Regions from separate parts of the Homo sapiens genome. Here region 1 is linked to region 2. The links come from fine-mapping of genetic effects on gene expression. Tissue or cell type: subcutaneous fat. Region 2 holds a variant in brackets; the other region holds the start of a gene. All regions are shown on one strand. Distances are between the middles of the regions.

Region 1 (4,151 bases), 750 kb after region 2:
CTCCTGCCTGGGTGACACAGCGAGACTCCGTCTCAAAAAAAAAAAAAAAAAAAAATCAAGCTCTTGCTGAATACTCTCTGAATGCCTGGTACTGCAGGAGGCCCTGGGAACTCAAAGTTTCTCTTAAGAACTGACCTTGACTTTAAGGATTGCCTGATTTAGGATCTGTGGACTTTGCTGACTGGGGACATCCAATTTTTAGGGAGAGATTCCTGGGAATTTTATTTGAAGGATGCACAAAAAGATTTAGCTTTTACGGGTGGATCACGAGGTCAGGAGATCGAGACCATCCTGGCTAACACGGTGAAACCTCGTCTCTACTAAAACAAAGTACAAAAAATTAGCTGGGCGTGGTGGCAGGCACCTGTAGTCTCAGCTACTCGGGAGGCTGAGGCAGGAGAATGGCGGGAACCTGGGAGGCGGAGCTTGTAGTGAGCCCAGATGGCGCCACTGCACTCCAGCCTGGGTGACAGAGTGAGACTCCGTCTCAAAAAAATAAATAAATAAATAAATAAAAAAGATTTATCTTTTAAGTAGGTCCACAGTGGATATATTTATAAAGTGAAAAATTGGAAATAGCCTTAATGTCCAACTGTAGGATATTGGTTTAATATGTGATAAGACAAATCGAGTATTATGCAGTCATTCAAGAGGAAGCAGATGGATATTTGCTGATACAGAAAGATGTTCATTATTAAGTGAAAACAATATACAAAACACTATTTGTATATCAGTAATAGGCCAGGCATGGTGGCTCACGCCTGTAATCCCAGCACTTTGGGAGGCCAAGGAGGCAGGATTGCGTGATCCCAGGAGTTCCAGACCACCTTGGGCAACATGGTAAGACCCTGTCTCTACAAAAAATACAAAAATTAGCTGGACGTGGTGGTGCACGCCTGTAGTCCGAGATACTTGGGAGGCTGAGGTAGGAGAATCACCTATGCCCGGGAGGTGAACGTTGTAGTGAGCCGTCACTGTGCCACTGCACTCCATCCTGGGCAACAGAGTGAGACCCTGTCTCAAAAAAAATACACACACATATTTTAAAGCCTAAAGGCTAATATACCCCAAAATTAACAGTGGGTATCTATAAGCGGCTTTTACAATTATTTTCTTGTTCTACATTTTTCCCCTATTTTTTTTACAATAAATGTGCATTTCTTGTCTGAAAAATAGCAATATATTTTATTAACCTTAAAATTATTTGATGCTATTAAAATATAACTGAAAATAATAATAAAAGAAAAGGCAAGTTTGCCAGCTCTCCCCGTCTCCCTCCCCAGCCTTATCTCCTGACTGGATTCTTGCTCACTCCCAATAAACACGGACTCTTAATTCGTTTCAGTATTTACTAACCTCAAAACAAGGCAATGTAAAGATGAATAATCATACTCTGTAGGTGATCTGCATCCACGCCAAATTTTGAGATGCGTTGAAAGAGGAAGTTCTTTACCTCTCTGCCTTCAATTATTTATTCTCGTTTAACCCATTTCCTCCGTTCATTCCTAACTTGAGGGCGTTTATTTACTTTTATCTACGCATGCGCACTCCTGGCTGCTAGAGAGGGCCTCTTCGCCCGGCGGTCCCGCCTTCTGACGTCGACCATTGGCCGGCTCTGCCAGCGCGCTCCTGATTGGTGGCTGAGGGCCGGGCCCCGCTGCTTCTCAAAGTTGGCGGGAAAGCGGAGGCGGGGCGGAAGGGTGCGGCGAGGCGGAATGGCGGCGGCTGCGGACTCGTTCTCAGGCGGCCCCGCGGGGGTGCGGCTTCCGAGGTCGCCGCCACTCAAGGTGCTGGCGGAGCAGCTGCGGCGCGACGCGGAGGGCGGCCCGGGCGCGTGGCGGCTGTCACGGGCGGCGGCGGGCCGCGGGCCGCTGGACCTGGCGGCCGTGTGGATGCAGGGCAGGGTAGTGATGGCGGACCGCGGCGAGGCTCGGCTGAGGGACCCGAGCGGGGACTTCTCGGTCCGCGGCCTGGAGCGGGTGCCGCGCGGGCGGCCCTGTCTAGTCCCAGGTAATGCCCGGGCCTTACCGGGCGCCCTCTTCCCTGCTGCCCGCCGAGAAGTTGCCGAGGCCAGATTCGATCTTGTTGTTGACACTCGAACGGGGGCGGGGCGGGTCTGGCCCTCCTCCGGGCCTCTGCCCCTGCGGGTCCCCGCTTGGGTACCCTTGCTCCGGTCCCTCCTTGGTGAAGTTGATCTGATGATAAGCATCACCTGCCGTCCCTTTTACAAATACAGATTCCTGGGACTCTCCCACCCCTAGTGGGAATCTTCTGGGGAGGGACTCCGGCACCTTCGTTTGTCACAAGCCCCCTCTCCCAGTTGATATCCTTGTTTTGGGAAATACTGTCCTGGGAAACTTCTGCTCATCCTTAACGTCTCAGCTCAAATGTGCCTTTCTCAGGGAAGTCCTCCCTAGCCCCTAGGAACGGGAGACCCTCCTGTACTTCTCCTTAATTGAACTGTCTTGGGCTGTAGCTCACTCATGTTTGCCTCCTCTCTTTTTTTTTTTTTTTTTTTTTTGAGACGGAGTCTCACTCTGTCGCCCAGGATGGGGTGCAGTGGCGCGACCTCAGCTTACTGCAGCCTCCACCTCCCGAATTCAAGCGATTCTCATGCTTCAGCCTCCCGAGTAGCTGGGATTACAGGCATGTGCCACCACACCCGGCTAATTTTTGTATTTTTTAGCAGAGACTGGGTTTTGCCATGTTGGCCAGGCTGGTCTCGAACTCCTGGCCTCAAGTGATCTGCTCATCTCGGCCTCCCAAAGTGCTGGGATTACAGACATGAGCCGCTGCGCCCTGCCTGCTTCCTCTCTTAAACCACTGATGCTCAAACTTGAGCCAGCATCAGTCTCTCCTGGAGGGCTTGGTAAAGCTGGGATGGCTGGGGCTCCACCCTCAGGGTTTGTGAGTCAGGAGGTCCAGGTGGGGCTGGAAATTTGCATTTCTAACCAGCTCCCAGGTGATGCTGATGCTGCTGGTCTGGGGACCATACTTTCGACTTTTTAAATGTTTTATTTATTTGAGATAGGGGACTCACCGTGTTGCCCAGGCTGGCCCTGAGCTCAAGCAATCCTCCTGCGTCAGCCTCCTTGGGTAGCTGGGACTACAGGCCTGTACCACCACGCCTGGTTTGGGGGCCATACTTTGAGAACCACTGGGCCAGCCCAAGCTACTGGAGGGCCAGAGCTGTGTGGTCCTGACAACTGTATCCTCAGCATCTGGCCCAGTTCCTGACACATAAGTGCTCCAAGAACCAATAGTCTTGAGTGATAGGCAATGGGCATCCATCTCACTTGTTCCCTGGGATGTCAGTTGAGCACGTGTTGTACATCAGCCCCTCATGTGCAGTGTTGGGCTGCAGCCGAGACCTAGATAGAGTCTGCTGGGAGACAGGCAGTGAGCAAGTGTCGCAGAGGATCGCTGATCTTTGGGGAGCCATGAGGATGTGCAAGGTGCTGAGTGGCCCGGGGAGGCTTCTAGAGGATGTGAGGTCTAAGCTGAGGAGCTCTGAGGCTCCATGGGCCTTCCCTCACCTCAGCTCCCTCTCCTGGGAAATCAGGCCAAGATCACTTCATTCCTAAGGGCCCTTCCTGCTCAGTCTTGGAGTCTAACTAGAGGCAGATAGGGCTGTGGTCTGGCCTGAGCTGCTGTGGACTCGGAAAGGCTTAGGTCGAATTTCTGGTTCCACCCCTTCCCAACTGAGCTGCCTGGAGCACTCTTGTTAACTTTTCTGGACTTGTACTATTTTGTAAAAAGGAGCTAATCATTCCTGCGTGTTGTGTGGATTCAATAAGTAAACAACTGCCTTAGTACTGCACCTGGCTCACAGTGAGGATGCAAAATATCAGGACTCGTTTACTGCCACATGCTCCTGTTCCGTCTTCCCACTGCCTTACCCATCAGCCTTCCCTCTGTCTGCCTGCCCTCAGCCGCAGCGTTGGTCTAGGACAGGGTCAGCAAACTACAGGCCTCCTCTTTTCATGTGTCCTGCGAACTAAAAATGCTTTTAAAATTTTTATGTATTACTATTATTATTTTTGAGACAGAATCTCGCTCTGTCTCTCAGGCTGGAGTACAGTGACGCAGTCATGGCTTGCTGCAACCTCCACCTCCTGGGTTCAAGCGATTCTCATGCCTCAGCCTCCCGA
Region 2 (4,317 bases):
TATTTTTAGAGACAGGGTCTCACTATGTTGCCCAGACTGGTCTTGAACTCCTGGGCTCAAGTGATCCTCCCACCTTGGCCTCCCAAAGTGCTGGGAATACAGGCTTGAGCCACCATGCATGGCCAAAATTATTTTTTTCATTTAAGTTCATGTATTTATTTTTAGTGATATATTAGATATACATATTTTTAGGGTACATGTAATAATTTGATACATTCATATAATCAAATCAGGATAATTGGAATATCCAAGGATCTCCAAATTCTTAATGACCACACTCAACTGTCTTGTGTCCCCCTCAAGCTTTCTCTCCTTAGTGGCCTCTTCATGCATTTATCTTGACCCAATCTCCATTTCATTTCCAGCCCCGGAATACTTCCTCCTTTCCCTCCACCAGGAGGTGAGATGCTCTCAGGAAGCCTGACTCAAGTGACCTTGTGCCCAGCACATCCTCGTTCCTGGAAGGATGCCAGGGAACCTCTGGGTCCTTTCAGTTGATGGTCTCAAACCCAGAGTCAGTGCAGACTGGGGCTGTTCTGAGGAAGGGAGACCAGGTGCCTCCCCATCTGCAGGGCAGGAGTGTCACAGTTCACTGGCTGGCACCCTCACCAGCCCACACCCTACACTCACCCAACCAGTTGGGCCACACCACCCACATGCCAGGCGGATCCGTTTGGACGGGCGCACAGCATGACCCAGCTTGTCTGCCACCTGTCCTCGGCTGCTGGGTTCCTCCCATCCTCCCACCTCCCAGGTGCCCCAGGTCCAGGTGTTCAAGGGCTCCTCCGTGCACATGCCCCTCCTCCATGAGAACGCTTTGTGTGTCTCACAAAGAAGAGAAACAGATCGTTTCCTGGAAGCTCAGGGAAGATCACTGCTGGGGATTCCCTGGCCCTGGGTGCCGGGCTCCCCTTTGTGGGAAGTGATTCTGAAGCCCAAGTATTCCTGTATGGAGGGAGGTTGGAGAAGTTCTTCCCAAGGGGATGGAAGGCCAGGTTGGCGTTCTGATATGACTTCCTTGTCTCTTGCCTGGCCTCAGTTTTCCCATTTGAAAACAGGACAAAGAATTCCCTCATTGTAACTCTCTGAAGTATTCTATAGAGGATTACTTGGCATTACACACACTCCACTGCCCCCTTAATTAATTTATTCTTTTATTCAAATATTTTTAAATTTTGTATTTTAAAATTTTGTATTTTTATTTTTTTGAGACAGAGTCTCACTCTGTTGCCCAGGCTGGAGTGCAATGGTGCCATCTCGGCTCACTACAACCTTTGCCTCCCAGGTTCAAGTGATTCTCCTGCCTCAGCCTCCTGAGTAGCTGAGACTACAGGAGCCTGCCACCACCATGCCCGGCTAATTTTTGTATTTTTAGTAGAGATGGGGTTTCACCATGTTGGCCACGCTGGTCTCAAACTCCTGGTCTCAAGTGATCCACCTGCCTCGGCCTCCCAAAGTGCTGAGATTACAGGCATAAGCCACAGTGCTCAGCCTCAAATATCATTTTTTTGAAACGCTGGCCAAGTTCCAGGGGCTCTGCCTGGCCCAGGAAGGTAGGAGGAGGCGCAACACTCAGAGAAGGGGCTTACACCAAACGGGAGGCCGACAAAAGCAAATCAACATATAAGGCAGCCAAGCAACCTCAGCTCACGATATGTGCCCTGAGGAAAATATAGCTGGAGGACGTGGTAGACACTGACCACAGGGGCAGGGCAGGGCCTGAGGACACCGCGGATAAAGGCTGAAACAACCAGAAAGAACCACCGTGAGAAGGAAGGTCTGCCGCTGAATGTTCTGAGCGAGGAAGCAGCAAGT[C/G]CAAGTGCCCTGGGGTGACTAGGAGCTTGCCCTGTCTGAGGCATAATCAGTGACCGTGTTGCTGAAACATGGCGCACGATGGGGAAAGTGGCAGGAATGAGGTCAGAGGGAAAGGCTGGGGCGGGAGCCTGTGGGGAGCCCTCTGAGGATTCTGCGTGCAGCAAGAGCCTCCCCAGCCACAGGAGATACAAGATCTTGCATGACTTGGGAGGAGCCTAGAAGTGGGTACCACCTTCCTCCCCCACCCCTGGTTCCCTGGGGCTGGGACTCCTATTTGGAGAGAGGATCTGATCGGCTTAGCTTGGGTTATATGTCCACCCCCATGGCCATGGGGAAGCCAGAACCCCTTATTAGACACCCCCATCCCCCAGATCTGTACAGCATGGCCAAAGGGTAGTTCCCAAAAGGGAATGCATGCAGCTAGCAGAGAAAGGAGGACTGGGCACTGGGCAAACAGAAGCCACAGCTGTGCGCTCCTTTCCACCTGACTCCCACTTCCGACCTAGATTTTGATGCCTTTCTCTGCTGTCTGAGCCCCACTCGCCACCATTTCCTACCCACCCCAGGAGTTTCTGGGATACTGGGTGGCACCCATTTGTCACTTAATAGAATCATAAAACTGAGAGAAATGCCCAGGACCATCGTGTCACTGTTGCACTTTGGAGATGGGGAAACAGTCTGGCGTGGTGAGAAGCCATGGGTCCTAGAACTTTGTGCTTCTGATTTACCCACCATGGAATTCTGCTGCTTCTTTTAGGATTCCTGAAGGAATTCCTTGTCCCCCGCTCCCACCTTCAGCAGCTTCATTTCACCCATGTGGGTGTGGCCACAATGTAAGGAGATGGTTTTTCTTTTCCTTGTGCAACCCAGCTAAGAAGTTTGCATCACACGTCATGTTTCCCCATAGACATACTACAGCTTATGGAGCTGGCTATGCCTGGGTTTGACTGACTGTGTGACATTACACAGTCATTTAACCTCTCCGTGCCTTCATTTTCTCATCTGTAAAATGGGACTACTACTACTACTACTCCCTACCTCCTAGGACTGCGGAAAGGTTGAGTTCGAATACGCAAAGCACTTAGAATAACCCTTCGGGTATATTACCTTCAGAGTGGTGATGTGTAATTTGTAAGCCCCTACAATGACTTGCACACACTTCATGCTTTGAAACTCTTTGTGAATTTCTTTTGTTCCTTCATTCAACTAACACCTTTTGGGCATTTGCCAGGCCCAGGCACTCACAGTGAACAGGCCAGACAAGGTCCCCACCCTCTCTAGGGGTAGAGATAGACCATGGGGGGAAAAATCAATCAGTCAATAAGCAAGAAAACAAGACACTTTCAGTATGACAAGTGCTAGGAAGAAATGAAACAGGGTGACAGAGAGAGAGTGGTGAGGGCGCTGTTGAGGCAGTGATCTGGGAAGATCTCTCTGAAGGGTGACAGTTAGACTAGAAGAGTAACCAGCCATGGAACAAAAACTTCTTGTAGAGGACATAAACAGCAGGTGCAAAGTCCCTGGGGTAGGGAAGAGTCACGTGCGTGTGATGGAAAGGAGGAAGTTGCTATGGCTGGAATGAGTTGGGGGAATGAGAGATAAGGAGAAACCAGAGAGGCAGGCAGGGGCCACATTAAGCAGCTCTCCTTGACCATGGTAGGAATTTGAATTTGATCCTAAGGATGGTGGAAGCCTGTGAACAGCTGAAGCAGTGGAGTGAATGAGCCAATTCATGTTTTCTGGCTACTGTGGGAGAAATGGATTGGAGGGGACAAGATTAGAAAAGGAGAGACCAGTCATGAGGCTGTTGAGAAATGGTGAGACATATCCTTGGGTCCCTACAGAGCACTTAGCCAGGCACCTGGGGCACCTCATCAAAGAGCACTGCTCACAACCTGCAGGTGGTCCCTGCTTGTGAGGCTTCATCACTCCACGAATGAAAGAGGATAACTCCATACAACCTGGGGTGCCCTGGGCAGAGAACTGGAGGTGTGTCCCTGCCTGGAACCTGCTCCAGGATCAATCCTTTTTTTTTTTTTATGAGACGGAGTCTTGCTCTGTCGCCCAGGCTGGAGTGCAGTGGTGCAATCTCAGCTCACTGCAACCTTCGCCTCCTGGGCTCAAGCGATTCTCCTGCCTCAGCCTCCTGAGTACCTGGGATTACGGGCACCCGTCACCACACTAGGCTAATTTTTATGTTTTTAGTAGAGACAGGGTTTCACCACATTGGCCAGGCAGGTCTTGAACTCCTGACCTCAAGTGATCCACCTGCCTAAGCCTCCCAAGGTGCTGGGATTACAGGCGTGAACCACTGCACCCAGCCAGGAATCAGTCTTGTTCCAGCAGCCCTGCTAGGGCCCTGGCTCTGGCCTCTTTCCAACCTCCGGGGAGTGCCCAGGGCAGAAATCCGGCCCTGCCCACCCTGGGCTGCACACCGATAACCTCCCCAAAGGGAAGCCGTTTGTTTGGAAGGAAATGGTGCAGAATGAGCAGTGGCCACGC

The links. PIP is the estimated chance that this variant, and not a neighbour inherited with it, causes the effect.
Region 1: RMI2 starts here. The variant in region 2 is fine-mapped to the expression of RMI2 in subcutaneous fat (FUSION, PIP 0.95).

The regions. Positions count from the first base shown.
Region 1 is chr16:11,343,757-11,347,907 of GRCh38, forward strand. It overlaps RMI2 (RecQ mediated genome instability 2), which reads left to right and starts at 1,703. Exons shown (of 2, transcript NM_152308.3): 1 at 1,703-2,010. The coding sequence starts at 1,716. The region is part of intron 1 of LOC105371082 (a long non-coding RNA gene); the gene reads left to right. It overlaps LOC105371083 (a long non-coding RNA gene), which reads right to left and starts at 1,456. Exons shown (of 2, transcript NR_135174.1): 1 at 1,357-1,456. RefSeq lists silencers at 1,772-1,931, 1,952-2,031.
Region 2 is chr16:10,594,106-10,598,422 of GRCh38, forward strand. No RefSeq gene overlaps it. Among named protein-coding and RNA genes, the nearest start is that of EMP2, 16 kb to the left of the region's middle. RefSeq lists enhancers at 184-700, 3,127-3,421. The variant C/G (reference allele first, on the strand shown) is at 1,816.